Regions from separate parts of the Homo sapiens genome. Here all the other regions are linked to region 4. The links come from fine-mapping of genetic effects on gene expression. A gene starts in region 4. Each other region holds a variant in brackets. All regions are shown on one strand. Distances are between the middles of the regions.

Region 1 (8,133 bases), 240 kb before region 4:
CATCTTAGAATGGAGAGAGGACAATCTGGCTAAATTTTATAAAGATTTGAAGCAAAAATGAAAACAAATTATTGCTTAAAAGTTGAAGGCTTTGGTTGACAGACAAACCAACATAGAGAAGACCTTACTATATTTTGTTTATAAACACGATTTAATATTTTAATCTTTCCAGATTTTTTTCAATTGTCAGGTAATCAGAGCCTAAGGCAGGGGTCAGTAAAAGTTTTCTGTAAAAGGCCAGATAGCAAATATTTTAGGCTTTGTGGGACAGATAGTCTCTGCTGTAACCACTCAACTCTGTTGCTGTAGCATAAAAGCAGCCATAGACACTGTGTAAATGAATGGGCATGGCTGTGTTACAATAAACTTTATTGACAAAACACCTGGAGGACCATATTTGGCCTGTGGGCAGTGCAATTTTGATAATAAGGTATAAAAATTAGAGTGATAAAGAAGGTCAGTCACCCAATCTGGTTGCAGATGGGAACAGCTGTCAAAACCATTGTTTCCTATATGTTTTCAACAATATTGGAGTTCTTAAGGCCTTTATTTTGTCTCCCTGCTGTTCTGCACTCTGCTAGCATGCCACAGGATCCTTTGAGAAAGGGGAAAAAAATTGGGGGATGGGTGGGTCATTGATTAGGGTGCCTAGGATGCTTAAAGGACATAGAATGATTTGGCAAAAGTTGCCTTATGTGCATGGGTATAAATCATCCAAGAGTTTTCGTTCTTATTTTCTGACAAACAGCAACAAATTACCTAACCAAGACAAAATAGATACATGTTCTTTTCATCATTTTGGGGCATGGAGGGCAGAATCCAGCAAACACTAGGCTCAGTCCTCCTAAAGAAAGCAAGCTTTTGAACTATGAAGCTTAATTGTGGTTACTCCTCCTTCTTTACTTAGGAAACATGCTCCCCTCTCTCAATATCTCTCATTGTTAAGTAAGTGTCGTTCCAAGGGCCAGATTTTAATCATAAATGTCAAGTATACTTACAAATGACACGTGCACATATAAATATCAAATGAACCATGTAGTTCCTCATATCCTCTCCTACTGAAGTGCAGAAGACACCATGCAGGAGACTCACGAATCGAGGATTTCAATTCTTAACGGAGTTTGTTCTTGTGCCGGAGGCACAGCTATCTAGTTAGCTGTTCTATTCACTTGACAGCTTCGCATTGAAATTGTAACATTTTTCAGAATTGAAGCCAATGAACCACGTTCTTGTTTATAGGAAGTTACACACAGAGTGCAAGCCCTCCTGCTGAATTTTTTGAAAGAAAATGGGATCAACAGAAAAACATAATTTTAGAGGAAATTGGCTGTGTGGTCAATATTTTGAAATGCCCTTTGTATTACTTACTTAGTCACGTGACTGGAAACCATTTGCCTTCATGTCAGTAAATCTTCCCTGCTTGTGCAATGGGAAGCCATGGCCCCTATTTATATTTTCACAATTTACCTTTTCCTGGAAATGGATCCCTTTTCTCCAAACTCAATTTTTGGAGTTTTCAATAAACATGCAGAAGTTCTATAATATGTGCTGAGTTTCCTGCACATGTGTGGATTCCTTTCTTTATCCATTTAGTAAATACTTATTGAGTGTCTTATCATGTTTTAGGTGCTGGATATAAACAGCAATGAACTCAGAGAGCTTACATTCCAGTTCAGGAGACAGATCTTAAATAATTAATCATCCTAGTAAATAAATAATTGTAAACTGCAGCAAGTGCTATGAAGGAAAAGCACATTGTGCTCTTAGAGCTCAAGATAGGCAGAACTGACCTAGTCTGAGATCATGGAAGACGTCTCTAAGGAAGTGACCATTTGGGCTAAGACTGGAAAAATGAGTAGAGGTCCACTAGACAGAGTGGGAGTCAGAGTATGCCAGGTAGAGAGAACGCTAGATTCAAAGGCCTTGAAGTGGGAAAGAACACAGAACACTACAAATAGACTAATGTGTCCTAATCTAGGAAGGGAGCAGGACAGGGACACAACAGTCATTTATTCATCAAATGTTCTGGGAGACTACTGTGTATTGGGAACTAATCTAGGTACTGGGGACACAAAATGACAAAAGAAGAAAAAAGAAAAAAATCCCTGCCTTCATAAGAGTTCACATTTTAGTTGGTGAGAGAGACTATAAATATATAACAAGGAATTAATTAGATTTTCTATAGTGATAAATGCTAATATGGTTTGGTTCTGTGTCCAGCCCCCACCAAATCTCATCTAGAATTGTAATCGCCACATGTCGAGGGAGGGCTCTGGTGGAAAGGGATTGGATCTTGGGGGCAGTTTCCCATCTGCTGTTCTCATGATAGTGAGTGAGTTCTCATGAGATCTGATGGTTTAAAAGTGTTTGGCAGTTTCCCCTCACTCGTTCTGTCTCCTGCCGCCACGTAAGTCATACCTTGCTTCCCCCTTCACCTTCTGCCATAATTATAAGTTTCCTGAGGCCTCCCCAGCCATGTGGAACTGTGAGTCAACTAAATCTCTTTTCTTTATAAATTACCCAGTCTCAGGTAGCTCTTGATAGCAGTGTGAACATGGACTAATACAATTGCTCTGAAGAAAATGAAGCTGGATGTTCAGTGAAGGTCTATCTCTGGAGATGCCATTTGATTAAATATTGATTGAGGTGAAGGAGCCATTCAGATGAAGATCTGAGGGAGGAAAATTCTAGGTGGTAGAATTAGCCTGTAAGAACATACCTGGTGTGTTTTTTAGACTATATTTTATTTAGTGTTCAAAACCAATTCAAGAGGCAGCTTGAGCTAAGTTCATGGCTAATACATATCAGGGTAGGATTTAAACCCAAGTCTATCTATTCCTTCCCTTTTCCCATCATAGAGTAATGCCTCTTTAGAGGGTATTAAGCCATGTCCATGTGCACAGGTCATTTAATCAAATCATCATTTAATCATTACAGTTATTTATTTAATCATTTCATTTATGTATTTAATCATTTCAGTCAAAAGTGTCACTCCTGAGAGTGAACAAAACCTTTAGTATGTATCCTAGGTGAAACCCCAAGCTATTGCTGATAAAGGTGTTCTTCCCTTTTTCTGTTGGAAAACACTCCTGCGAATCTCGGTATTAGGAGAGTTCACACTTACTGTATAGTATGTGATATGTTTGGGAATCACTGTACAATGTAGAGAAAGTCCCAGGCTAATAGGAGACTTGGGTTTTATGCTTTTACTTCCATTCAATTAGTTGTACAAACCTAAGCAAGTTACATCCTCTCTGAGTTCCAATTTTTCATCTGTAAAATGGGAATGTTAAAAATAGCTTTTTTTTTTTTACACCTCTCAGACTTCTGAAAATCCAATTAAAATGTTGCCTCTTCCTTCAAAATATATCCAGAATCCAACAATTTGCCCCCCATCTTCACTGCTACCATGACCACTTCTTTCCTGGATTATTGCAATAGCAGCCTGACTGGTGTCCCTCTGTCCTTGCCACTCCAGCCCTGAACGCCATTCTGAATGGAACAACCAGAGTGATCCTGCTAAACGCAAGTCAGATATTAGTGGAACTTATTACTCTCCTTTTTCCCCCAGTGAATTCATTCATTCACTTGGAATTAAAGTCCAAATCTTCATGTTTACATGTCCCCCCATGATGTGCCTGCCCACATTACCACTCTGACCTCCTCATCTGGTCCTCTCAGATGCTCTTGCTCTAGCCTTGCAGGTTTTCTTGGTATTCTTCCTCAACCACACTAGGCACAATTTCACCTCCAAGATTGTTGCTCGCTGTTGCCTCTGTCAGGAATAGTCTTTATGCAGCGAGCTGCATAGCCCACACTCATACTTCTTTCAAGACTCTGCTCAAATGCTACCCTGTCAATGAAGTTTACAGTGACTATTCTATTTAAAATGGCAACTACTCTTTTCTGCATTTCAGACTCCCTTATCCTGCTGTACTTTTTCTGTTTTCCTTTCCATAGCACTACTCATTGTTTAAACATACTTATTTATAGAATGATCATATAACATTTTGCAAAAACTGGGATATTTTTGAAAATGAAAGCGGGTGCCATTAAATTATCCCAGGACAATAGATATAAACTTCGACTTAGTAATTTATAATGATTTTTACAAATGTTATGTTTCCCTTTGCTGGTTTTCACAAGAAAAAGGATCATTGAATGTTTTGTTGTTTACTTATTTATCTCATGTGCCAATAAAAATGCCTGACACATAGTAGATTATCAATAAATATTCTCGAGTGAATGAATAAATAAAAATAAAAAATAAATAAAACAAACAAAAAAAGATGTTTATGGCCAGGTGTGGTGGCTCACACCTGTAATCCCATCACTTTGGGAGGCCGAGGTGGGTGGATCACGAGTTCAGGAGTTTGAGACGAGCCTGGCCAACATGGTGAAACCCCTTCTGTACTAAAAATACAAAAAATTAGCTGGGCATGGTGGTGCGCACCTGTAATCCCAGCTACTGGAGAGGCTGAGGCAGGAGAATGGCCTGAACCCAGGAGGCAGAGGTTGCAGTGAGCCGAGATCATGCCAGTGCACTCCAGCCTGGGTGACAGAGCAAGACTCCGTCAAAAAAAAAAAAAAAAAAGATATTCATTATCTATAAAGTACTATATAGCTCTACATCTTAATTAATTTACTAATTTTTCTAAGGATATCTATATATGTTTATAGATACATATGGTGTGGAATATATATCTGAATATATGTGTGTATACACACACACACACACACACACACACACACACACACAGAGATATATATTTAATATCAGCGAATCCTCCCCACTTTACCCCATTTAATCCCTAGGATAGAGTAAAAGATAACTTTGCCATATAGTTTATGTATACTTTAAAATGCTAAAGGCTGATTTGAAAGATAAACATGATGTAGGGACAATTATTACAAGAAAGTTGAAAGGTGCTATTTGTTTAAAAACATTGCTTTTTTCCATGAGGGTACATGTCCCTGATGAGGGCTT[A/C]CAGATGCTGACAGTCACCTCAAGGAATTGTTGATACAGCTGCACTGAAAATTAGCATGATGCATGTACGAGGCTGTGCAGTGGAAAGCAAGGTAATATTCTTTCCTACAGAAGAAAAGGGGCTGGGCACAGTGGCTTAGGCTGGGCGTGGTGGCTCATGCCTGTAATCCCAGCACTTTGGGAGGCCCAGGCGGGCGGATCACCTGAGGTCGGGAGTTCAAGACCAGCCTAACCAACATGGAGAAACCCCGTCTCTACTAAAAATACAAAATTAGCCGGATGTGGTGGCACATGCCTGTAATCCCAGGAGGCTGAGGCAAGAGAATCGCTTGAACCCAGGAGGTGGAGGTTGTGGTGAGCCGAGATCATGCCATTGCACTCCAGCCTGGGCAACAGGAGTGAAACTTCGTTTCAAAAAGAAAAAAGAAAAGGAAAGGTACACTGTTAGTTGAGGAGTAGACAGGAAGCATGGAGGAATTGAGAGAGTTCCTGCAAAGGATGAGCCGCATGGAGTGGAAGTGGTATCTGGTAAGAAGACAATCAATTGGTAAGAGTTAAATTAATGGTTGAAGTAAATTAACCCTTGTCAGGCTATACAAAATTCTTGACAATTGGAAATAGCCATTTCTGTACTTGTACACACTATGCATCCACTCATCACTCCATCTACTCTATTTATTGACCTATTCTTGAATGAATTTTTGGCAGAAACCAACATACAATGTGCTATTATCAAAGTCAATGAGTGAACTGAATCCAAATGCAAAATGGTTTAAAGTCTACTTTGCTTACCCTGTAGTTTTGGAAATGCTTAGATAACAAGAGTGTGCAGTTTACTTATAAAGCCAAAGCAAAATCAATAGATAAGCTTTCATGCTTCCTTTCTCAGTTGATGATATCGATGGGAATGAATAAGCCAGAGTCTTGGCTTTTAACTAAATTTAAAAACAATAAAGCCTTATTGGGTGGGACTTTGTGGGCCTTTTATCTTCCTCCCCGCTTTGGTAAATCAGGTTTGGCTGAGTTGGTTTTCCAGGCATCCCACCCCAGCAACATCTGAAATATCTTTTCCATTTATAATGTTTTTCTTATAATCCAAGGATGTATCATAGAACAAAGGCAACAAAGTTTATTGGGTTCAGCTGGATCATGAAAAAAGACATTAGATTTTCTATTTAGGCATTTAGCAAATCATAGGAGAAATCAATATGCAAAGAAGTAAAACCTTTACAATTCCACTAATGGAAAAGAGAGAAAGACTGTTTTCTACCTTCTTTTGATTTCTTTTATGAGATTTCAGCCTTCTGATAGCCTTAGGAAACTGGCCTCTAGTTCAGATTCACGTTCAGCTTTTGTGGTTTGTATTGCCCAGAGTTGCGAAGTCAACTGTTTTGTTTAAATATTTTAAAAGTACCAAACTAGAAATACAAAGCCTGAGCAGAACTAGGCACATAGAAGGAACTCAATATATGTTTTAATTTAATGTGAGATGGTTGATATATTCTGTAAGCATATTCATCTGTCAATCTGTCTGATGCTAGGCAGCCTCCTAATATCTGAATAGCTAAAGAAGAGATACAAAGGTGTGAATACCACGGTCACAGACTCAAATATGCTAAAACATAACTTACTTTATTTTTATGTTAGTGAAAGCATTTTTTTTCCAAGTCTACCTTATTAGCAGTAGAAAACAACAATGACCACCACCATAGCAACAGGAATAAAATCTTTAATTTAGCTGCTTCCAGGTAAACTCAGTCCAAATCTGTGATGTATTAATTAATACAAATTAATAGTCTATCCACATTCAGATTTAAAACATCTCACATTTTTTCTCCCTTCTTCATCTTTTTGCACTTTCTTTTAGGCTTTTGAGCACGGTGATAATGTTGTTGGGAACTCGGCTTATGCTGCTGTTATATGAGGTTTTTGAGGAAAGGGCCTCGAAATGCTCTCTGCTTCTTATCTGTGTTGATCCTATTGGGCAATCCTACTCCAGTTGACCTTCTCTTGTATATCCATTATGCAAGCTTTTGCCTGAAAGTAACAAAAGTCCAGTAGTTCCTCAAAAAAAGGATATTTACTATTTAGTAGTAAGAAAATCCAGACACAGATGGCCCCAGGGTTGGTCTGGAAGCTCAATGACCCAGACTCTTATTATTTTTCTTCTCTGCCATTCTTTGCAGGTTGCTCTGTCAATTTTGTGCTGCCCACCTAAGGATCACAAAATAGTTGCTGCACATCCCAACATCACATAATCTTTCCTAGGCAGAAAGAAGTGGAGAAGAACCGCTATCAGTAGCTCTCCTCTTGTATATGCCTCAAGAAAGCAGCGGGTACCCAAAAACTTCCACTTAGGTCTTCTTGGCCAGATCTGAGTCACAGGTTATCACTTGCTGTGAAGAAGGCAAGGAAAGTAATGTTTTGAGCTTTAGGTTCTCTATAATGGGAGATGAGCCAGGGAGATAGCGTTGAGAATGGTATTTTGAGTGGCCGGCCTTCAATTTCTGCCATTATTAGTCTGGTTTTTGGTATAGGAAATGCACAGTAGTTCCTGAGAGTGTGATTGAGATGGTCTTTGAGAGAATGACTCGGTTGCATCAGTGTAAATTTTTTGATCCCTGAGGGGGACCTTTTGTGCGCAGGAAATGCTATTTGCAGTTACTTGGTTTTAAATTAATTTATCTAAAAACCACTTAAAAAGTAGTTATTTTTCTCACTTTTAAATGTAATTTAAAACTCTTAGTCTATTCCATAAATCCTGTGTATTTTATCAATCCCTTGCAAGGCAGCCTTTGATTAATGTTGGATCAACTCAAGCTGAACAGACTGAACTCTGCTTAATTAAAAGAACTTCTAAGTGTAAACCCAGATTCCTCAATTCTTTTTAGCATTTCAGAGTACATGTTAAAGTCTAATATATCAACAAAGAAACACTGCACTGAAATTGAACTTTAGATAGAATGGACCTAACAGACCATTATAGAACATCCTACTCAGCAACTGCAGAATATACATTCTTCTTATCAGCTCACGGAACACTCTCCAAGACAGACCATACGTTAGGCCACAAAACAAGTCTTAATGAATTTTTAAAAATTTGAAATTATACCAAGTATCTTCTCAGACCACTGCAGAATAAACCA
Region 2 (8,133 bases), 580 kb before region 4:
GAAACACAGCCAATTGTCTATTGCTGCTTTTGTGCTCCATGCGCAGAGTTGAGTAATTGCAACAGAGGTCATATGGCCTGAAAAAGTCTAAAATGTTTGCCGTCTGGCCCTTTACAGGAAAAGTTTGCAGACCCCTGATTTAGTAACCTGCCTTTAGAGGGTTATTACTTCCAAGTCTTCATTGGCGGTAGTAGTGGTGGTGGTGATGGTAATGATGATGATGATGATGATGATGATGATGATAGCTAACACATACTAACACTTAAGTACCCTAAGCACTTTGCATGTATACATTCATTTAACCCTCACAACAACCCTATATTATAGCACTGTTACTATCCCAATTTTGCATATAAGGAAAAGGAAGCAGAGAGAGGGTGAGTGATATGTTCATTCTCACTTGGCCAGTGAGTGGCAGAGCCAGGCTGTCTGGCTCAAGAACTTATGTATGCTCATCTTATTTTTGTTTTTTTTTTTTAACTTGTAATTATGAAATTTTCAAGCATAGATAAAAAGAAGACTATAATGAATCACTAAACACTCGTCATTCAGCTTCAGTAATTAATAGCATACTGCTATTTTATCTACTCACCATGTCTTCCAAATATTTGTATGCATGTAGAGCAAATTTCAAACATCATGTCATTCTATTTTCAAATACTTCAATGCATATTTCCTATATATATAACAAAAATGTCGTTATAATGTCTAACATTTCACAGTAATTTCATAATATCATCTAATGTCCAGTTCATATTAAATTTCTTCTGGTGGCCTTCAGTTTTTCTTTTGACCATTGGTTTGTTCAAATCAGAATTCAAGCAAGATCAACTCACTACATTTGGAAATTATGTCACTATGTTTCTCTGAATATATAATGGTCCCTACCCCTGCCATTTATTACTTAAGAAAATAGTTCATTTGAGCTGTGATATGTCCCACATTCCCGATTTGATCAATTACTTCTTTTTGGTTTAATTTGTTCCTCTTTTTTCCCGTATTTTTTTATACTCCTGGCTAAGTCTAGATGATTGATTAAATTAAGAGGTATTTATATGTGTGTGTTTGTGCCTGTGCATGCACATTTTTAGACTCCTTTGTAGATAGTGCTGCATATTTCCTATTGTATCACATCATGAACCGCATAATGTCTGGTTATCATCACTAAAAAGTGATGTAAACTTTTCTCAGTAGGTTCAAGTGATGTCAGTCTGATCCTGCCATTACAAAGTTTTCCCCATCAACTTTTATCTTGATAGTTTTATCATCAATTAGTGATTGTTTCCTAGATCTATTATTTCATTGAGAGTTGCAAAATGGTGGTTTTCAGAGTTTTTTCATTCCTTTTCTCTTTATTAGTTGCAATGGTTCTATAAAGAACTTTCCCTCATCAACTTTGGTTACCCTGAAGTATTGTTTGTACAGAAGCAGAATAAATGCTTCTTATCTTTTATTTGTGAATGTTCATTGTGATGACTTAGTGTCTCAGCAGCTTCTAGGTGCTCCGGTTGCTCATTGCTACTGAGTGGTCACTGCTTCTAGGCTTGTTGGTGGGAAGATCTAGAAAATATGTACTTTATAGAAAGAGAAAAATAGGCCAGGCGTGGTGGCTCACGCCTGTAATCCCAGCACTTTGGGAGGCCGAGGTGGGCGGATCACGAGGTCAGGAGATCAGGACCATCCTGGCTAACATGGTGAAACCCCGTCTCTACTAAAAATACAAAAAATTAGCCAGGTGCGGTGGCGGGCACCTGTGGTCCCAGCTACTCGGGAGGCTGAGGCAGGAGAATGGCTTGAACCCGGGAGGCGGAATTTGCAGCGAGCCAAGATCACGCCACTGCACTCCAGACTGGGCGACAGAGCGAGACTCTGTCTCAAAAAAAAAAAAAAAAAAAAAAAAAAAAAAGAGAAAAATAGATTATGATTTCATTTTGATATTTCCCATTTGCATAAGATTTCAGGATTTTTACTGAATTTCTTTGATTTTACGTTTATTTTTGTTTTATGCTGACAATCTTGGTTCCTTTTGATATGAGCATAGTTATGTGCTTATCCTATAATTTGCATAAGGTAATTAAAAAATAACATTACCAATATTACTGTTAACAGTAAGACAGTTTATGTTTTCTACTCTCTTAACCTCTATGATAAATGGCCTCTTTGTAGAATGGAAATTATAATCCTGAATCTGCCTGAAGGTTCTTATGTGGGAGCAGATGATCTGTTGAGGTATCTCCATCTGTGAGATTTCTTATAAATCAGTATTTTTTAGACAGTTTCTAAAATGTGTGAGATGGCTAGAGTGCTTGGGTTTGAGCCATAAGGTCCAAGGTCAAAATTCTTCACTGGGCTTTGATTCAGAGGTTATGATGATTTTTTGGTGTAAGAATATAGGCCCCTGCAGATACTATAAAGTTAGTAACCATAGTAAAAAACCTAAATTTTGGGATCATATAGGATAATTTATATATTGAACATTGCTTTCTGGTATATAAAACACCTTCTAATAAGTCATCTCATTTGATCTTGATATCTCTCCTAGGTGATAGGCACTATTATTATCTCTATGTTACAAGAGGATCAGAGTGGTTAAGTACTTTTCCACAGTCGCACAGCTAGTAAGTAGCAGAGTAGGGATCCAAACTGAGGTCTTTGGACTTATAACCTGGCATTCCTTCCAGCATATCAAGATTGTTAACGTATCCTAGAATGTTGTTTGCAGCCCAGTAGTGGTGACTCTATTAACTTCTCTTGCGGGGGGGATGAGGAGAGAGATGCTTTGGAAAATTTTCCTCGGCCAATGGTGCTTTTCTTTGGTAACTCTTAGGTGATCAGACCCAGAGCCGAAGGTGTGGACTTGAGTATGTTTTATGTTTACTGTTTTTATTGCTCTTCCTTTCCCACTGCAGCTTGGTTATTGGAGTTGTTTGAAGGAGCAGGAGGAGATCTGATGAAACTTCTTTCAAGTCAGAACTTAACTCTGCAGTAGCCATGCTTGTCCTGGTGTCTACTAATTAAGCACTACCAGGGTCACCTTTCACTGTTGCTTCATGTGCAGGTGCCTGCATTAGTCATTATAAAAGAACATCCTACTCTTTTTTTCTCTGTGGTAGTAGATGGAGATTTCAACTCATTTCATATTGGCAACTACTCTGCCAGAAAATAGGAACAGTTTTTCACTGTTACCTGCTTCTACCAAAAGAGTTTTTTCCCTTAAAGCTTCTTGTGAATTGATTTCAACCATTGCTTCACTGAAAATTATTAATCCTCAGGGAAATATAGGGGATTAACCACAAAATACAACCAAGTGCATGAAGTAGAGTCTGTATTCTACTAGTTTCTTCCAAGGAGCTGGGGAATATCTCAATCGGACCTGAAGGGAGGAATCCTAGAATGTTTGAGGATCTGCCATACCCATTTTGTGCCTATAATTTCAGCAAGTTGGGAGAGAGAGAGGAATGTCTGCACCATGTGCCCTGCTGACCTAGATAAGAAATCACTTTAAGGGCAAGAAGTATTTCCTTCACTGATGCTAACACCCCTCACTCTCAATTCTCACAAGGGATCTGGAATCAAAACACCTGGTTTAAATACTAACTTTATCAGTGTACATCCTTGGGAAAGTTACTTAAACTTTTTTCACTTCAGATTTCTTATTTGCCACATAGAGACAAAATAGTGCTTAGCTCATATAGTTGTAAGAATCAAAGCCATAATGCCATACAATGCTTAGCATAGACTTTAGCACATAATGTAGTTGTCACTCCAATGCTGGATGTTATTGTTTATCATGAATGTTATTGTTATTGATCATTGTGGTTATTATTTTCTTTATCAAAATAATGTTATCCAGGCCTCAAACCATCTAGTGATATAAAGTACAAATAGCAGTTGGACATTTTACTCCCCTATCTTGGTCACTTTCATTAACAAGTGTGAGTGCTTCCTTAATAACAAGCATTAGCTAAAAATGTCCCCCCTCTCCCACCACCAAATCTTCAAACAGCCTCTAGATTATTCCCTCTGCCCCTACTCTTCAGGGCTTCAACATCATGCTCATCATCCTCTTCCTTAACTTTCTTTATAGCAAAACACCTTAAGAGAGCTATTTAAATTAATCCTCCACAATTCTTCTTCTCCCCTTTTCCCTTAAACCCACTCCAGTGAGGCATTCATTCCTACCACTCCAATGAAAGTACTGTTGTCAGGAGGGGAACACCACACACTGGGGCCTGTCGGGGCGTTGGGGGCAAGGGGAGGGATAGCATTAGGAGAAATACCTAATGTAGATGATGAGTTGATGGGTGCAAGAAACCACCATGGCACATGTATACCTATGTAACAAACCTGCACGTTCTGCACATGTATCCCAGAAAGAAGAAGAAGAAGAGGAAGAGGAAGAGGAAGAGGAAGAAGAAGAAGAAAAGAAGAAGAAGGAGAAGGAGAAGAAGAAGAAGAAGAAGAAGGCAGTACTGTGGTCAAGGTCATCAGCAACTTGTACATTGCTAAATCTATTGGTCTCTTCTCTTTTTTTTTTTCCTTACAGGGCGACCTGGTAACATTTGATATGATTCTGGATTTTCTTCCTACCTCATTGACTCCTTTTCCTTAATCTCCTTTCCTGGCCCCATCTTCTTATAGCCACCTGTAAAAAAAGTGTTGGGATGCCCTACACCTGCTTCTCTATCTCTATCTATATACAGTTGACCATTGAACTACATGGGTTTGAAGTTCAATTGCATGTGGTTTTTCTCCCACCTCTGCCACCCCTGAGACAGCAAGAAGAACCCTTTGTTTTCCTCCCACTTAATGAATAGTAAACATATTTTCTCTTCCTTATGATTTTCTTAATGACATTTTCTCTGTCTTATATTATTGTAAGAATACAGCATCAAAATATAATACATACAACATACAAAAAGTAAACTAGTAGTAGTTATGTTTGATGGAGTCAAGTTTTATGCAGATTTTTGACTG[C/T]GTGGGGGACCAGGGCCCCTTAACCCTTGTGTTGTTCAAGAATCAACTTAATTCGTTTATATTGATTACATGTTGAAATGATTTGTTTTATATATTGGGTTAAAGAAAATATACTATTAATTTCATCCATTCTTTTTACTTTTTTTCAGTGCAATTACTGGAAAATTTCAGAATATATATGTGGCTTGTATTTGTAGCTTACGTTCTTTTTGACCGGACAGCACTGGCCTAGACGGAGCAACTGCTCTACATCCCTGGGTCCACCTCACTTCAGTGTCTGGTGAAATTCTCCTCATCCCTCAAGACCAACTGCTAATGTCTCTCTCCCCTTTCCTTGCTCTTTGCCACAAGCAGACAGAGTTAGCCATTCTTCCTAGTCTGCCCTGACTCTGTGCGTAAGTTGTGCTGACTTCCATAGCCCCCGACACCTAATGAGCAAAGAAAGAGGCCTGTGCCACTCCTGGGCTGTTGGTGGATTTTCTTTGTTGGTCTCCTTACAGGATTTGCTTCATCTCTCTGCTACAGCATTGCACACATTGGTTTCTAGTTATTTATTTGTAGGTCTTTCTCCCTACTCTATAATGAACTCCTAGATGTTCTGCATGGTTTCTAACTTAACTCTGATCCTCAGTGACCAGAACACCATGTTGCAGAAATTTGTGCTCATTAAGTATTACAGGGACATACAAATCGCTCTCAGTCTGCATTTCCTGCTGCCATTTGCCCCCAGCAATCCCACCTGATGACTTCCGATTTTCCCCATAGCTATTCGTTCCCTAGGTTGCAACCGGGCTCTCATTGTAACTAGTCTGATGACTCCTACTCTATTTGTGGTGTAGGCTGGCTAATCTGGACTACATCAGGTCTGGTAGCATCTCTGGTATGCAACCTGGGTGATTGGGTGTCACAGAGGGATGGGTGAGCTCCCTTGAAGGCCAGCTGGTTGTATGGCCAGTCTGTAGAGAACAGCAGTAGGCTGCTTCCTTCCTTGGCTGCAGGAGATTTTCCTGATTTGCCTTGTGGTGGGCAACCTTTCAACTTTATGGGTGATGCTGCCATGTCATTTGTAGTGAGTTAATGATGCACAGAAAGGAGAGTGGGTAGATTTGTGGCAGATATGGGTTTCCTAGCAACATCATTAGCTATGCTGGACCACCATTCAGTCAGCTTTGTCTCCTGTGGCCTGATACCATGGTGACACCACATTCTCTCTGGCCACTCCATAAACCTTGCACTTATGGCTCTCTGTCTTTAGAAGGACTGGGAAGAAAGATCACTTAGCAGTGTGCTGCTAAGATGCTGAAATCGATGGCAACGTTCCACTTTCTTTCTTTTTCCCCCGAGGCCTTTGACTGTGTACTTTGTATGATTTGTTTCCTGGGTACAGACAGCCTTGTAACCTTTTTGTCTTATAAATGCAGAATCTTTGCTGAAGCATCCCATGTCTGTCTGACCACCATGGCTGAGACTAAAGACTTGTTTACCAATAATGAAAATGGTATCATATTTATTTGGCTTAATTTCCACCCATTTTTTAAGGGACCACAGTCTTCATCAGATTTCTTTTACAATATTCCAGGAATTGTAATCTACCATTTTCTTCTGTCCTGTCCTGGTCCAGCTACTGTTGTGACTCCTCAATAGCTGAAATGATTCAGTGCTCCATTGGGCCACTGCAACAAGGCCATCATTGAGGCCACCAAAGCTGTAATGGCGTCTTTGCTTCTGCACTCCAGATGAGGACTGGCTTGTTTCTGTACACACACTGATGCCTCTCTTTTGTGTTCCAGACACTTTAGGGTTCCTTCTTCTCCACCTATCTCCTCCTCTTCTCCTGCCCCCACTTTTTCTTCTCCTGTTATGGTGGTCCCATTGCTGCAGGACTCAGGTCTGTGAAGGCTAGGCTTGGAGACAATCTGAGAGACAGATACAGTGATATTCTTAGAAAATTCTCTCCTCTCCTTTTCCAAACTGACCTACTGAACGTGTACCAAATTTAAACACCCCAGCCCTCCTTCTAATTGAAGAGTTCTTTTTAAAAGAGATTACTCAGCCCCTCAAGTAAATAGACCCTTGATGGCCCTGGCCCTGCTGGTCTTTTAGACAGGCTAAAGCTGTCATGCTCAAACTCTGCACCACTGACATGAAGGAAGGCCCATCAACTTCTCTATGTCTGTTTGGGCCTGTTTTAAAACATCATCAGTGTGGGCACAGAAGAATTCATTCTTCTCCCTGAGTCTCTCAGGAACTCTGCATGGCATCCATGTTTGGAATCCTTAGCTTACTGCCCCTATGATGCCTCCTTAGAGTATGTTGTTTCCTGCTTGTTTCTGGAGCAGAGTCTAGGTGGTAGGCACTATGAGGATGCTATGCAGAATAAGGCATGAATTCTCTTTTGAAGGAGTCTTCAGAACAGAATTTGAGATGATGTGATCAAACAAATAGGAAGAGTACTCTCTAACAGTACTTCTGCCAGGTGGTCATATGGCCTCTGCCTGGATCTTTACCAATTTTTTCAAACACAGAGCTTTCTGCTGCAGAATAATTTGAAGCATTAGACGTTTTTCCCTATTTAAAGCTGAAATCCTTGGGCAATGGGATCATAAGAAGCCCAAACTTCAGCATCATGCCATATACCCATGAAACCAACTTGAACGTATAACCCCTGAATCTAAAATAAGAGAAAAAGAAAAAGGAATTTAAATACATGGGAGAGAGAAAGTAGTAGAAAGTATGACATGTTTAAACATTATAAAGAACTAGTAAAATGCATGCTTATCAAATATCAACCAAGAAAAGTACAAAAGATATACTTATTTTAAAACATTAAAGCTTAACACCAAAATAAAGGAAATGATTTAAATTCACTGAAATATAAAATGCAAATGAACTATAGAGCAACAGTAGAGTTTTAGCCTATTTCTCAACATCTTCATGGAATTGATAAACCAATGTATATTGTGTTCAAAGTTCTGAGTTAAATCATAGGTGGGAATTGAACAATGAGAACACTTGGACACAGGGTGGGGAACATCACACACGGGGGCCTGTCGTGGGGTGGGGGGAGGGGGGAGGGATAGCGTTAGGAGAAATACCTAATGTAAATGATGAGTTAATGGGTGCAGCACACCAACATGGCACATTTATACATATGTA
Region 3 (8,133 bases), 180 kb before region 4:
CTGTCTGTATCATCAGGACTTCCTGAGGCTGCGTCATGGGTGCATCCTTAACCTTGGCAAAATTAATTTTCAAAATTGACTGAGACCTGTCTCAGATATTTGGGGTTCACATTTGGGTAACCACAGAGGGATTCTGAGTGTAGGTGCCCCTGACCTTTCACAAATCTTCTACTGGTACTTGGTACCAGCTTGAGCTATCTTCATGGTTAAAACCAATAGGACAATTTGCTGAGGCCTGAAAGCCACCCCTCCAAAGAATCCCTGATCTCCAAAAATTTGGTTGCAATCTAAACTTTATTTTGCTGCACAACTCCTTTTCTGAAGATTTACCTGCTTTCAACAAGGAAGGCAAGTTCTCCTGCTTCCATCACAATGGAAGGCAGGTAATTCCCTTATGAGTTTGACCTTGCTCCCAGCACGGAAGATGAATCTGAGTTTTTTCCTGCTTCTAGGGTAATAGACAGCAGTCTTCAGCCTGAGACCCATCACTAGGTAAGTAGCTCAATAGGGGTTTTGTCTTGTCTAAAGTTAAGATTAACAACAAGCTGGTCTTAATTTCTCCTTACCATTAGAGTGCTCAGTAATCATATAAATTTTGTGATATTTTGTGTTTTTGCTTAACTTTTTTTTTTTTTTTTTTTTTTTGCCGTTGTTTGTTTCTGTTTTTGTTGTTTTGGTCTTTCTTTCTTCATTGGGAAACTATCCAACTTGATCAAATCTAAAGGAAAGTTCCAAATTATGAGGAACAAGGCCTCTGAAGTGGCTAAATTTCCACAAAAGGTGGGGAGGGCTTGGGAGGAAAAATGCTCAGCAAAAGAAAAAACAATAAAGATTTTTGATTTTGAGTACTTAAGGGGCTTTATGTACATAGCAAGGCCACTTTTTTGCTATCCAGGCCAAATTGAAAGAGCAACGCTGTTGCCCCATGCTGCAGTTTCATAGCTAAGGTTCTGCCTTCTTTTTTTTCCACAACAGCCTGGGTTTGCTTCCTAAATCAAGCCATTTCTGGTTTGATACTTGTTTCTTTTGAAACATCAGCAATTTTTCCTAGCTAAAATATGGTAATGAGATTCAGAAAGATTTTTTTAAAGGAGCTCAAGGGTTAAAAGTCAGCTTAATTAAAAGCTCACATCTGAGATGTGTGTGTGTGTGCATGTGTGCATTTGTATTAAAAGGCCTTTATTTTTTCCTCTGTTAGAAACAGATAATCGGTGTCGTGAAGAAAAGACAAAGGATCTCTCAGCAAGGCAATCTTTACTTTCTGCAGAAAGGGTGCCCCTCGCAGATCGAACAATCGTGACAGCACACTTGAACAAAGGAAAAGCAGACATATTTATCATTTACGTATTTGGGTCAGCCTTACTGCTCTGTCCTGCATCCATTGGCTGGAGCTGGACCCCACAGTCTTCAACTGATACCAAATCTGCTAATAACCTAAAACTTTCCTAAACAGGTAAGTGCAAGGGAGAACAAAGAAGAAAAAGAAGTTGCTTACTAAAGGTTTAAGGAAGCAATTAACATTTCAAAAAAGGAAGGGGCATAAGCTATGAGCTAAGACTTGCCTGGGCCTGTCCAGACATGCCTGAGTAAGCCAAAGCAACTAACTGGGCTCAAGTGTAAGAACTAGTAGTTGAGAGGAGGCTTTAGAGTAAGGAGCTATTATTTATAGTGTCTATTATTTTATTTTTAAACCAAGATGAATTTTGAAGAAAAACTTTACTACTTTCTACATCTTCTCTCCTAGGACCTTGTCTTTTTTTGAGCAAAAGTTTTTTTTTCTTCTCAGACGATGACATTCTGTTTTCTTCATCTACTTCTGCTGTCTCTCCTTTATTTTGCTACCCTCTGTTGCATGAGGGACGTAAAATAGTTTATAATTGCCTGCATTCCTTAAAGAAAATGGAGAAGATGCCACACTCCCTTTTGGGGAGAAACCTCTATTTTTCCCAAGAGTGTAAACACACAAGTTCATCTCAGATCTTAAGCTGCTTGCTTTTGTATTGTGTTACTTGATTTTTTGACTAAAACTGTTATTAGTTTATTCTTGGATTTTTAAGGAAGAAAGTAGCTTGAACACTTAGAAATGTCTTTGTTAAAAAAAAAAAAAAGGACACTGTAAAAGCATCACTTGGTGTAGCCTCATAGTAATTCTCCCTTTTTGGAGAACTAGGATTCAGTGTGGGCTCTGCCCAGAGCTCAGAGATCCAGTTAAAAGACAGGTAGTCCCTATCTAAATACAACTGGTCTCCTTATACAATCCTATAATATATTTCTACAATTTTGTGTTTGATTTGGCATCCATCTTCAATCTCCTTCTAACATCACCAGACTCTTTCTCTCTGTGCTTTGAGAAGCAAATTTCACTATCTGATTTTTTTTACCTAAGGGTTCCTTTAATATGCACATTTAGGGCTATCTAGCTGACAATTGCCTAGGGCAATAAAATAGGTTATGAAGAAATTGTAAATCTAAAATACAAGGAAAAAATAAAGGCCTTAGGAATTTATAAGATCTACTTCTATCTACATGTCTAATACATCTATGTATTTATGTGTCATGGATATGACATTTCACTACTAAAAATGTAGAAAAGAGCTCTAATTAATTGGCTTAACAAAGGCACTTAAATCTAATGCTTTTCAGAAAAATAGACTTTAAGCCAAATGCTTTTTCAAGTTCATGTGACTTAAGCAAATCTTCAATAAACAAGCTGGTTTTAAAAATTTTAGTGAAATTGAATTAGAAATGGCTTTGGAATTCTCAACATACATTATTTATCTCTGCTAGATGTCAACATTTGGCATAAGGGTTCTAAAGCTATGAATGCAGCTCAAATAAGAATTATCTTTGTTTATGTAAAATTTAGTAAGTAAGGAATTTAATATTGTTTGGTTAATGAAAATAGCTAAATCCTGAGTTATTGCCAAAAAAACAAAAACAAACAAACAAATAAACAAAAAAAGACCCTTTATCTAACCTTAATGTTCTTACTCAGGACAACCTGAAATTCACAGGTTATAAAAATGGTTAACAAGGACATAACTTTAAATGGTAACTATTACAGTTTTCATAAGTAATCTGGGTAAACTATTAGAAAATTAATTAATTACACAAATGTAACAGAATAAGTTCTTGTAGAATATCTTGTCATATAATTTAAAATCCAAAGTTATATTAAGCTAAATAGTAGATATTTATTACACGTCTGGGTCATTTCCAATTTTTTTAATTATAGGAAAACATTTTTCTGTAAAAAAGAAATGTGATCTTAAAGGAAAATACTTTTTGTCTAATTCGAAGCTTATCTAAAAGTTATTTATGAAATTAGGTAATCAGTGAATAAAAACAATGTGAAGGAAGTTATGAACAGGCATTTTTGGCACAAAA[A/G]GTTAAAAGGAAAATAATTTTATCTGAGCAAGAATCTTGTATGGTAAATTTTTGTTCTAAAATAAAATAACTGGTTATTTAAGAAAAAGGAAGCCTAGGCATGGTGGCTCATGCTTGTTAATTCCAGCATTTTGGGAGGCCGAGGTGGATGGATCACCTGAGGTCAGGAGGTCGAGACCAGCCTGGCCAACGTGGCAAATCCCTGTCTCTACTAAAAATACAAAAATTAGCCAGGTGTGGTGGCACGTGCCTGTAGTCCCAGCTACTCCGGAGGCTGAGGCAGGAGAATTGCTTGTACATGGGAGGCAGAGGTTGCAGGGAGCCGAGATGGCGCCACTGCACGACTCTAGCCTGGGCGACGGAGGAAGACTGTATCTCAAAGGAATAAAGAAAGAGGAAGGGATAAAACAGAAAGTCCAAGCTGTCATAAATGATTTGTATAAAGTTGTCTATAATTAAAGGGAAATTATTTATAATAGTCTTTCCAGATTTAGCTTATGATATTAAAAAAAACACTAAAAAAATTCATCAGAACAATAAAATTTTCTTAAGGAGTTGATTTACTCTTAATAAATTAAAAGATTTTAATTCTTTAAACCCAAAGTTTAACTTTTATCACATCTCACCATTTTCGGTTTACTCTCCTCTTTTAAAAGGTGAAAATAATAACTCTCTCTTTCAACTCATTTTCAGCTCATATAAGTTTCTTCTTTTTTTCTCTTGTGTTCTGTTTGTTGTGGCCTCATGCTAAAAATGTTTTTTTTTCTATTTCTTTTTTCTTTTCTTGAGGTGGGGTCTCACTCTGTCAGCCAGGCTGAGAGTGCAGTGGCACAATCTTGGCTCACTGCAACCTCCCCCTTCCAGGTTCAAGCAATTCTCCTGCCACCACGCCCGGCTAATTTTTGTATTTGTAGTAGAGACAGGGTTTCACCGTGTTGGCCAGGCTGGTCTCGAACTTCTGACCTCAAGTGATCCACCTGCTTCAGCCTCCCAAAGTGCTAGGATTACAGGCATGAGCCACTATGACAGGCCAAAAATTTTTTCTTCAAGGTCTAAAAAAGTGTTTTCTTCCATCTGTGTAACTTTCTGTATGTGCTTTTAAAGTCCTTGTGCCATTGAGTTATAGGGCTTTGACTTCTGGGTCTAAAAAGGACACCAAGTTCTGCTATATCTTAAACACTGACAGCAATTACAGCCTCATTTTCAGGCCCAGTAGAAGATGCTAATCAAAGTAAACTGCGTTCATGAGATGCAGGGCCAGAAATTAAAACTATTCAACTCCTCAAGGCCCAAGGACTATCGTGGAAGAGGTGGGCATGTGAGATTGTAAGGGCTGATATTAAGAGAAAAGTAGCTCAGTTTCTCTAGGAATTAACCATTAATATCAAAGGCACACTAAAGCAAAACCAGTATCTAGGTTGCTGTGTCAGTTTAACAAGGCTTTCTTGGAGCATTAACTCACTCCTTCATGCAAAATGATGAAGGTTACAAGGTTTATAGAAATTATATTTTATACTCAAGATGATTAAACTTTTATTATACAATTTCAAAAAAACAAACTTAATTTGCCGCATCCTGTTTTTAATTAGGGCTTATTGTTTGGGATATTAAGCCTCCTCTCTCAAAGAATAAAGATTTTCACCTTTTTTTTTTTTTGAAACATTTGAGTTACTGCTTTGGTTAAATGAATGACTTATTTTACAATGACCCATGACCCTATTTCGTGATATCAAGCATTTTAAACTTTTTATCTTTGACGAACTTTCCAAAGTCAAATTCTAACTTCATTCCTCATTAATTTTTTGATATGAGTCCTCTGAAGTCCAAAAGAGACATATTGGTCTTATTTGGTATAAAAATCATACAAGAAGCATCATCAAATATAAAATGGTGTTTGACTTTCTTTGGGCTGTATTTATAGAAATGTCATTGATATGTGCTCCAAAATTATGGGAAACTCTTATACTTCTGAAATAACTTGTGTATGTTATTAATTATAACTTTTATGTTAAATTCTTGTATGCTACAGAAGTAACCAAAATTTACTTGTCAATGGTGGTTTTAATAATGGCCGTCCTGGCTGGGTGTGGTGGCTCACGCCTGTAATCCCAGCACTTTGGAGGCCAAGGCAGGTGGATCACGAGGTCAGGAGTTCAAGACCAGCTTGGCCAAGATGGTGAGACCCCGTCTCTCCTAAAAATACAAAAATTAGCCGGGCGTGGTGGCACAGGCCTGTAATCCCAGCTACTCAGGAGGCTGAGCCAGAGAATCACTTAAACCCAGGAGGCAGAGGTTGCAGTGAGCTGAGATCATGCCACTGCACTCCAGCCTGGGCAACAACAGTGAAACTCCATTTGAAAAAAAGAAAAAAATATACACCCCTGATTTGAAACAAGACTAGGATACACGGTAAAGAATGTTTATTCACTAAAGTTTTGACAGACTGAAGGCCATTATTTCAGATTGGAGATAGGAAACTTAAAAGAACTACATGGACATTGGGTAAAAGAACATGGGTTGAAATTTGCCTGGCAGTAGCCCAAAAGTAAATGGTCTTCGAGGTGCATGTGAAGGAACTGTAGGAGGGAAATGGGATAATTCACATCTCCGCCAATAAATAAATGTAGCCACACTAGCGTGGGGGATTTGAGGTGAGACATCGAAAATACTAAGTCATGGTGAGGGCTGGAAGACAAAAGAATGAATCACTTAATAGGAATGGCTGTGGGGAAGGGCTTGAAGGAATCATCCTCTGACTTCCATGTGAACCGTGAACATTAAACATGGAGAAATGAGGAGCGGCGGCAGATCGGTTTGGGATGCATCTTCAGGGGATGCTGAAACAACAACAGCATTTGGTTTGCTCTACACCCCTGTCACCCCTCGCCCGCAAGCCCAGGGAGTGGTCAGCAGTGGGGCTTTGTGACGTCGAAGCCACCCTAGGGCTGCCATTGGCTGGGACACTGCCTGTATGATCAAACAAAGCTCAAGGGTGTGGCTTTGCCTTGTCACCAGGAGGGTATGCATAGGGAGGGCAAGAGCTCTGGGCCACTGCGAAGATTCAAAAGCTCCAAAAACCTACTGTAGACATCGAAGAACCAATATATACAATGGGCCAACAATCCAGTGTCCGCAGGCTGAAGAGGAGCGTCCCCTGTGAATCCAACGAGGCCAACGAGGCCAATGAGGCCAACAAGACGGTAAGATTGTTAGGTTCTGAAGTGAAGGCGAGGGTGAAAGAAAGACACACAGAGCGGGGGCGGCTCAAACAACAACACAGGAATATTGCAGACCATTGTGGAAGTGGGGGGCCCGCTTAATGCCAGAGCCCACCGCCGCTTACAACCTGGGGTGCTTGTAGGTAGGGGTGGGAGGGGCCTGGGCAGTATGGCTTGCTGCCCGGCAGGATATTGATAAGATGTTCTTATGATCAGGTGGTTTGGCCCTTTTTCTGGTGGAATATCATTGTGGTGTTCCTTAGAACGCTGCCAAGCAAGATATGATAGGGATGTTTCTTCAGTTGGGCCTTTGTCCGCCTTGCGGACAGGTGGTTAGGCAGGATGTTTCTCACGGCCTGAACCCCCATGGGATGTTTCACTTTGACCAAGGTCTGCAAAATAGCAAAGAACTGACAAAATGGTGCAGTTTGGACTCACAGGTGACCCTACCCACGCTCCTCTTCTTCTTCCCCATAGATCCCTACTCTGTGCTTCAACCTTCTTCTTCTCTGGATCAAACCCCTTCCTCAACCTGCATTCCTTCTTCTCATGAAGCCCCCTTGCTATCCAGTCTCTATCCTGTTCACCCAAAATAATGTCCTCCTGGCCTCTCCCTGTTTTCTTAACAGATGCCGGAGACCCCAACTGGGGACTCAGACCCGCAACCTGCTCCTAAAAAAATGAAAACATCTGAGTCCTCGACCATACTAGTGGTTCGCTACAGGAGGAACGTGAAAAGAACATCTCCAGAGGAACTGCTGAATGACCACGCCCGAGAGAACAGAATCAACCCCGACCAAATGGAGGAGGAGGAATTCATAGAAATAACGACTGAAAGACCTAAAAAGTAGCAAGAAGCTACATCCCTCAAACTTCGGCAATGAAAATAAAGTTTGAGAAGCTGATGGCTGTGTATATCTCTGCCTGTTTTCTGATGGTGGGGGGTGAAGGGAAGGGAAGAGGTAGGCATTTGAGAAGGGAGGGATATGAGGTCCTGTAGGGTTGGTGGACAGACCCACAGGTTGACAGTAAGCCAGACATTGTAAATAAGGCCTGGGGGAGGACTGATTCCTAAAGAAAATTTTCTTCTTAAAATTTTATCTCACAGGAAGTGGAGATGTGTATATGTTCACGCAACTGTACCCGGCAGCACATAGTTCTGCTGAATGGACATATCAAAGGTATTCCCATCCCCTTTCCATTTGATATTTTCCTAGGTTAGAAATATATGCTTTATAAAGCGTAAATGTTCTGTAAAACACAAAGCACAATACAAAAGAAGATAGTAGATGTAGGAGTAAGTAAACGGCAGGAAAGCATTGCATGTAATGAAATGATTGAAAAGCCAAATTTTAAAACAAAATGTACACTGCATCTTAAATATTTATGTTACTGTTTTAATAACCTCAGCAGTGTTTAATCAAGATAAGCATGCTTTAGAAATGTGTTGATATCCGCAAGTGTGAATAGTCAAAATCGCCACGACTTGGGAAAAGGAAAGTAAAACACTCTTAAGTATGAGGAGCTT
Region 4 (8,133 bases):
AGAATTCAGGGTCTAAGTTCATATTTATTCAGCATTCCTACCTATTTTTAATAGTTTTGATCAAAGTGGCACTTTTATCCTTAGACATACTTCTACTTCTTCCTTCTTTTTTGCCATGCTTTATGCCATTATCATGAATTCCTCCCTGGGTGGTGGAGCCCTTGCCAGTATCTGCGCTTTTATTGCAGAATCTGCCCCCAAAGTAACCAGAATCCCTTTTCTGCATCTCACAGCATAACCTGTTTGTCCATGATGTAAGAAGGACATCACTTAACACACACACACACAGAGCACACACATACTGGGTCACAGCAAGCTCATGTGCACATGCACACATACTCAGGAAATGTACACTTCAGATCACAGAAGCTCCCTGGCCTAGTTCTCCCAGATGCCATTCAGATGCTGCCTTGGCATGGCATCCTTACTGAACCTCCCTTCCTCCACAGAACACCTACTCATATGTCCTCAACTTCCACCCCAGAAAGGTCATTCCCAGATCTAATCACAGCCCAGATTCTCTTCCTGGCCCTTTCCTGTAACTAATCATCAAAGTTCTGACCCAGGGCACAGTAAAAGCAGCAGACTGGACTCGCTATGAAGGCAGAGATCACATTTTATTCAAAGATGTTTCTGTAACTCCACTCAGCATAACTGGGCCATAATCAGTTTGGAATAAATGACTTTTGGTCTCACTGGATCCTTTACCTTTTAGATCTTGCTCACTTTTCCACATTTATCCCCAATTCAAGGCCTTTCTAGTTAGGAAGAAAGTGTAATTATCTGGCCTCACACATATTATGTCTCAAATATAATCTCTCTCTTCCAAGGGGTTTTGTATATTTTCCAAGGAGACTGGGAGAAGTGATCAATGAATTCTAAATAACCAGCTGTCTCCTTGATTCAGATTTGGAGGCGGCAGCTCCCTGAAGAGCCCCAGATCTCATTTCCACCCAAGCCTCAGCCTCTTTTATTAAGTCATACGCAACCCTGTCCCCACCCTCCAGAAACAGCTATCCTAGGGGTGAGATATAACTCCTACCCTGAACTTTGCCTGTCCACCACGTAAAACAGCTTTGTTTCTTGCTTCATATAAGACTCCAAAAAGTAAATGGGGTCTTATCATGCTCTCATTTCCATTCTCCCTGAACCTGCTCTGCTCCTCTTCACGCTGACATTTTCCTACTAAAGCCAGGCTCAGAGTCAGAGACTTGCTTTCTGAGACTTCTGTTCCCTGGCCCAGGAGTAACAGCCCATGGTTTGCTGAGTGCTCACCATGTAGCAGGGAAAGTTCTAAATGCTTCATGGGTATGATCTCATTTAATCCGCACCTATGAGGTGATTAATATGAAGACCCATATCTCATTTAATCAACACTGAGGTTTACCAGTACAAATACAATATCTTGCCTCAAAAGGCCTTAAACAGTACGGAAATGTGTTATCTAAATTAATTAAAGGTTATAAAGTCAAGTTGGCTCCAGACATGGTACAATGAGGACATCTGGACAGATATAAAAGAGAACTCTGAACCCCTCATATCCTCCTAAACCTTTCTAAGAGGCAGTCCTCTCAAATCCCCAACCAAGCTGCTCTGCATTAAACATTTCAATGACTTAACCTGGAGCAATGGCCTCACACAGGTATGCAGCTTCTTCTCAGCAGCCACCCCCTTCACTGCTCTGAACCCTCCAGGCCCAGAGATCTCAGCATAGCCCCTAGATAGCAGTACAAGGTCTGATTTAAGAGATAACCAAGCATCTTGCTAATTTCCATAGGGAGGAATCTGGGACACATCTATGAGTGGGAATTCTAAGGATGTCTGTCCAAGGAGAACGAAATGTTTGTTAAGATCAGGCTATATCTTTATGGGTGCACTTGCCCAGGATCCGGGACTTAATGTTAGCTGGAGCACCTGAAAGTGACATGTTGGCTATTTGGAGTTTGAAAGTGACAATCTACTATGTTGGCTCTCTGGAGTCTGAACTCAACAGCTGCACATAGGCAATAAGGATTAAGGGGCAGAACTTCCCTGGCACAGTGTTAAGGAATCCAAAAGCTCAGAGAATTAGGAGCATTACATATATATGTCCAGGTTTACGCCTATTGTTATGGTCTAATTATTAATACTGCTCTCTTTGCCGTCTGCTCAGCCAACCCTTAACCACGCCACCCTGGAGGACCCAGAGAACACACCCTTTGCCAGGGCTTTAAGAAATGCGTTGGTGAAGGGAGCATCAGAACCCTGACAAAGCCCTGAGGTAGCTGTCCCCAGCAGCCTGGAGATGACAGCGGGGAATACTAGGATTGGTTGTATTCCCTGATTTCCACGGGAATAATGGTAGTCAGAGTGACAGTGGTAGAGGCCAGTGATAGCACTTAACCATTAAAAGACAATCATTTCTTTTTTTAGTGCTTGATATTTATTGAAAATAATGCCAATGCTTTTTCCAGGTAGTATTGAGGAGCTGGGCTGAGTGCTTGTTTGTTTTGTTTTTAAGTACTATTTGTCCAAATGCACACATCTGTGGGACTGCTGCAATTTTGAAAGAAAAATGACAGCTGTGTAAAACCAGTGCATAGGAAAAAAGAAGTGTCAACAATTTGGCTGCCAGGCACACCGCGCCCCTGCAGCAATCTGGTGGGGCAGGGGAGGACACTCGGAGTAGGTAGAAAACTAACCAGGCTGAACGGCCCCTTCAGGGGTTGGTGAGCTGTCCAAATCAATGTCTGAAAAGGCATAGCCAACTCTGGCATTTTCCAGGTTGGTCCTGATCTCGAAAGGTGGTAGTCTGTAGGTGGGATGTGGTGAGTGGATGTGAAGTGGCAGCATAGTTCTCTGGGAAGATGTAAGCCTGGCAGCAGGGCAGGTGGCAGCAGCAGGGCTACGGGTGGTCTGCGCAGTTTGTAACAGGGGCCTGGCCAATAGCTGGGGTTCAGGACACAGTTCAGATTAGCAGGGGAGGGATCCCGGGGATGGCCAGGGTAGATGACACTTCCAAGCACTTCCGAGTGAGTGAGGCTCCAGCCCCGACCCCAGCAGCAGGTAACTGGAGCGCTATTCCTGGAACAAAGACAAGCACTACGGAGAAATGAAGAGAGAGAGCAGACGGGCGCGGGTAGGTAAGGGGACCGGAGGGCAAGGGGGAGAGCAGTGGCTCCTGGCGGGGTGAGGGCTGCGGGGAGGGGGTGGCGGCGTGCAGGGCCCTCCCCCCCGAGGCCCGAGGGTCGAGGGCCTAATAATCATCCTCCTCTTCTTCGTCGTCGTCGTCTTCGTCGTCATCCCAGCCAAAGCACTGTTTCATCTCATCGAGGAAGGCCCGGTAATCACCTAGGATGGGGCTATCCATCTCGATGTAGGGCACCACCCACTCCTCGGCTTCCCCGGTGAGGAGGCTGATTAGGAATGCCACCTTCATGGCGTCGTTGCAGAATCGGTTCTCGTTCACGAGCATGTAAGACGCCGTCTGCACGATAAACTCGGGGAGCCGGGAGCTCTCGCCATTAAACGTTTCGGGGAAGGGCACCGGGCAGCTCGGCGGACGTACCTGGCGCAGCAGGCTGGCCCTCTCGCACACCAGCAGCCGCAGCTGTTCCATGAGCTGGCTGTTCTCGATGCTCAGGGCGCGGTGCCGCATCAGGAGCGCGTGCAGCAGCAGCACCAACTCATCCACCATTGCGAACGGCCTGGAAGGACAGGACTCGGCTCGGTTCGGCTCGGCCAAGGTGCGCACGGAGCCCTCGCAGGAAGTGCGTGTCCACGGAGGCGCTTGGTGGCCAGGGGCGGGGGGCGGGGGGCGGTGTGCGCCGGGGTCCGGGAGGCTACGCAAGCTCCGCCCACGAGGCCATTCGGACGGACGGTGCGCCGGCGCGACGGGGGAGGGGCGTGGCTAGGCTGGGAGTGGGGGGGCCGCGGCGGCGTGGGGGCGTGGCCGGGATGGGAAGGGTGTAGACAAAGAGGGCGTGGCCAGGAAAAGGATGCGCTGGGTCGCTGAACCACCGGCTTGTGGTAGGTCTCTCGGCGGGCAGTTAAAGGCTGGGATAGGCTCCCCTAGCTCCTAGTTGTGGGGCCTGCGTTAGCAGAGGACTTGGCGAGCGCTGAGTCCGGTCTCAGAGAAGGTAAATTTGTTCAAACTGAAAGGATTAGCCACCCTTCTACCTAGGTAGCTTGCACAACTCAGTGTTCCTTCGTGGGTCTGTGGCCACTAGATTCTCTTGGCTTGATGTTTTATTAACACATTTTCTTTCTTATTTAAATCTCACTCAGAGAAGTATTGACACTGCTGGCTGCCCTGTGGGAGTCACACTTCCTTTTAGAATCATGAAGACCCTCAGGGGGTCCTGCCTTTCATGAAAAAGGTAGTATTTAAACAGTGACTTCTTTAGTAGGGAAATAATATGGTATACACACACACACACACACACACACACACACACACACAAAACCTAAGTAACAAGATATAAAAAAGTTCTGCAAAATCAGCATCCAATAGTCAATTGCAGGCATCCCACATATCTTTGATTCTCTATTTCTTGTCTTGCTATTAGTGCCGTTGGCCACTGGGTATTATTCTGTACTTAAAAATGAACTGTTAAGATGTTTGTGTTTTTAAATAATTTTGTTTTTCTACTTTGAATGGATCCCTGATTCTAGAGCCAACATGAATTGTTGGCTCTGCTTTCAAATATATTGCCAATTCAATCACGTCTTGTCATTTCTGCCACTGCCACCCTGATTCCTAGCCTTTCTTTCTCACCCAGACTGCTGCAACTAATCACTTAGCTTTCACTCTTTTCTTCCTATAGTATATTCTCCATAGAGTAGCCACGGGAATCCTTTAAAACAAAAATTAGGGCCGGGCGCGGTGGCTCACGCCTGTAATCCCAGCACTTTGGGAGGCCGAGGCGGGCGGATCACGAGGTCAGGAGATCGAGACCATCCTGGCTAACAGGGTGAAACCCGTCTCTACTAAAAATACAAAAAATTAGCTGGGCGTGGTGGCGCATGCCCGTAATCCCAGCTACTCGGGAGGCTGAGGCAGGGGAATTGCTTGAACCCTGGAGGCAGAGGTTGCAGTGAGCCGAGATAGCGCCACTGCACTCCAGCCTGGGCTACAGAGCGAGACTCCGTTTCAAAAGAAAAAAAAAAAGATCCCTTCACTCTCCTGCTCAAAATCCTCCAACAGTTTCACCTGAGAATAAAGAGCAAAGTTGCAGCCAAGGCCTACAAGGCCCCTCCTTCTATCCTGTGCCTCTTCCCAGTTTCTGCTGTGCTCTAATCACTGTCCTCCTTGCTGATTCTCACACCCATCAAGCAGTTCTGGCTTCATAGCCTTTGCATCTTCTATTCCTTCTGCCTTGCAAGGCTGTCATCCCAGTTGGCTGCCTGACTCCTCCTACTGCTTTCAGAGAGAACTTTTCTGACCACCGGACCTATCAGAGCACCCTGTTCTCTGCCCCCAATCTGTAACCCTTTACTCTGCTTCATTTATCTACATAACATTTATTGTGCTACCGGCCACCATGTCGTATGTATATACAGTACTTTGCTCATCATCTGCTTCCATTTTAGAATATATAAGTCAAACACTGCTTTTGCTATCTGGTCTATCCCTAATGCCTAGAAAAGTTCTGGCCCAGAGTAGAGGCTTCATTAATGTTTGGCGAGTAAAATCATCCCAGAGTGAAGATGCTGAGATGAAAATCAGAAGTTGTCGCTGCACAAAGAGTCAAAAAATACTCTTCAAATTGTTAAATGTAAGGTTGGGCGTGGTGGCTCATGCCTGTAATCCCAGCACTTTGGGAGGCTGAGGGGGGCAGACCACCTGAGGTCAGGAGTTAAGACCAGGCTGACCAACATGGAGAAACCCTGTCTTTCCAAAAAATACAAAATTAGCCAGGTGTGGTGGTGGGCGCCTGTAATCCCAGCTACTTGGGAGGCTGAGGCAGGAGAATCACTTGAACCTGGGAGGCAGAGGTTGCCTGAGCCGAGATCACGCCATTGTGCTCCAGCCTGGGCAATAAGAGCAAAACACCATCTCAAAAAGAAAAAAAAAAAAGAAAAAAAATTGTTCAGTGTATTTTATCTCTGACCATGGATCAGTCTCGATTGTGAAACAATGACTGATGTAATAAAACTGGCTGAATAGATTTTTAAAGAAATTCGATTCGGTCCTTTAGGATAGAATTGAATGATCATCCATGGAAGTAGGAGGCTGGGAAAGAGCAGAGAAACAGGGCCAAGCCCCAAGCAGGGACACGGGGAAGATCACAGTGGTGAAAGGATAAGCAGTGAAAAAAAGAGATAGGAGGAATGTGAGCTTTTGGCCTCTCCTGTGCTATGAGCTCCGCCACCTGAGAAGTTGGCAGGCAGGGATCCACTCTCACTCTTAATTTTATCTTCAGCACCTGGCAGTGTTTACTAGCTGCTCCGTAAACATTCAGTGTAAGGATTGAGGGGAGGGATGTGAAATGTGGAAAGTAGGTCTCTGGCCATCATGCCCATTTACAGTTCAGAGTACAGGATGGGCCTGACTGGGACAGAGGTAGTGTCCAGCTTCACCTTTCATATCCAGGCCCTAATACAGGAAGAGTACTCAGGGTTCGACTCCTGGGAGCACACTTTCTTTCTTTCTTTTTCTTTTTTTTAGACAGAGTTTTGCTCGTGTTGCCCAGGCTGGAGTGCAATGGCACAATCTCGACTCACTGCAACCTCCGCCTCCCGGGTTCAAGCGATTCTCCTGCTTCAGCCTCCCGAGTAGCTGGGATTACAGGCATGCGCCACCACGCCCAGCTAATTTTATATTTTTAGTAGAGACAGGGTTTTTCCATGTTGGTCAGGCTGGTCTCAAACTCCTGACCTCAGGTGATCCACCCGCCTCGGCCTTCCAAAATGCTGGGATTACAGGCGTGAGCCACCGCGCCCGGCCTAGAGCACACTTTCTGTAGCAGACACTGGGCCAGGTGATTGGCAGGGCTGTCACAATGACTCATACACAAGGACCAGACATGGGAATGGGCATTTTAGAGCCAGAGACCCAGGAGGTAAATATCTAAACCTAATAAAGCAATAGGTTGATGGTGCTATACCTTCATGCCAACCTCTCTAACTCTAAAGCCCGCCCATGCCCTTGCTCTGAATAATTAATATGTGCTGGACCCTTGTGACTTCAGTGGGCCCAGGCAGGTCTAGTGGGGAACCAGAGATGATTAGGCAGATGCTGCCCTAATTTTCTCCCTACAACCCCACAGCAGAGGGATTCAGGGAGGAAACCAGACGAGGCAACCACTATTGTTCCCTCTGAGTGTGCTCTGAGACCCTGGAAGACAGGAAATGTCCTGCCCAGAACTGAGCAGTGACTTTGGGAGGTGCTTCCCTGGTTGGAGAAAGGGAATGGAGACAAGCAGCTTAGCACTGACTCACAACAGAAGCAGTCAGGAAGAGGTATGTAGTATCAGTTGATAGAAGATGTAGAATCTTAATGCTCATTTTAACCAGCTTCCAGGTGCCTGTGAGGCTCTCCCACCAGTGCCAATGCATATCAGCACTTCCTTCTCCATTCACCCTGCTCACAGCTGCATGTCGCCTTCCTCATTTTCTTTCCCCTTCTCGAGTGGCCCTTAAGTGTTCCTTTCCACTTAACGTGAATATGCTGGGGGCAGACACAAGTACTCCCTGTGACAAGTACTCATAGGGAGTACTTGTCTCGGGCCAGTAAAATTTATCAGGACAGCTCTGGGTTGGAACGCCCTAAGGGTGGCTTAGACTCCACCGTTTGGCAAGAGCACAAGTCCAAGGCACTCACTACCACCATGTTTCAGGCTCCAAACCGTGCCCTGGTACACATCAAGCATCCAGACTGTAAAATTCTCTTGAACATGAAAATTTCCCATGATTCTTGAGCCACCAGATGAGTGTGCACACATCGACTGGGTGAACTAACTCAGCACTCAAATATACAGCCAGGAACAGAAACAGCTTCGGAAAGAATATTTGTGAGAGGACTGCATGAATGCTGCCAAGAGCCAGATCTCTTCCCACATAGACTTCCCCCATCCCCCTTCTTAGCCAGGTGCACCTGGGACTGCTTTTTACAGAAACCTCACTTGGAGGGCAATAGAGACCTCTGGCCCG

The links.
Region 1: its variant is fine-mapped to the expression of LDOC1 in whole blood (TOPMed, PIP 0.97).
Region 2: its variant is fine-mapped to the expression of LDOC1 in lung (GTEx, PIP 0.96).
Region 3: its variant is fine-mapped to the expression of LDOC1 in whole blood (TOPMed, PIP 0.93).

Annotation. Positions count from the first base shown.
Region 1 is chrX:140,937,922-140,946,054 of GRCh38, forward strand. No RefSeq gene overlaps it. Among named protein-coding and RNA genes, the nearest start is that of MIR320D2, 16 kb to the left of the region's middle. The variant A/C (reference allele first, on the strand shown) is at 4,988.
Region 2 is chrX:140,593,862-140,601,994 of GRCh38, forward strand. No RefSeq gene overlaps it. Among named protein-coding and RNA genes, the nearest start is that of SOX3, 93 kb to the left of the region's middle. The variant C/T (reference allele first, on the strand shown) is at 4,978.
Region 3 is chrX:140,996,197-141,004,329 of GRCh38, forward strand. SPANXB1 (SPANX family member B1) reads left to right here and starts at 6,398. Exons shown (of 2, transcript NM_032461.4): 1 at 6,398-6,587; 2 at 7,235-7,510. The coding sequence starts at 6,498. The coding sequence ends at 7,456. The variant A/G (reference allele first, on the strand shown) is at 3,388.
Region 4 is chrX:141,173,346-141,181,478 of GRCh38, forward strand. LDOC1 (LDOC1 regulator of NFKB signaling) reads right to left here and starts at 3,784. Exons shown (of 1, transcript NM_012317.4): 1 at 1-3,784. The coding sequence starts at 3,676. The coding sequence ends at 3,236. RefSeq lists an enhancer at 2,849-3,348.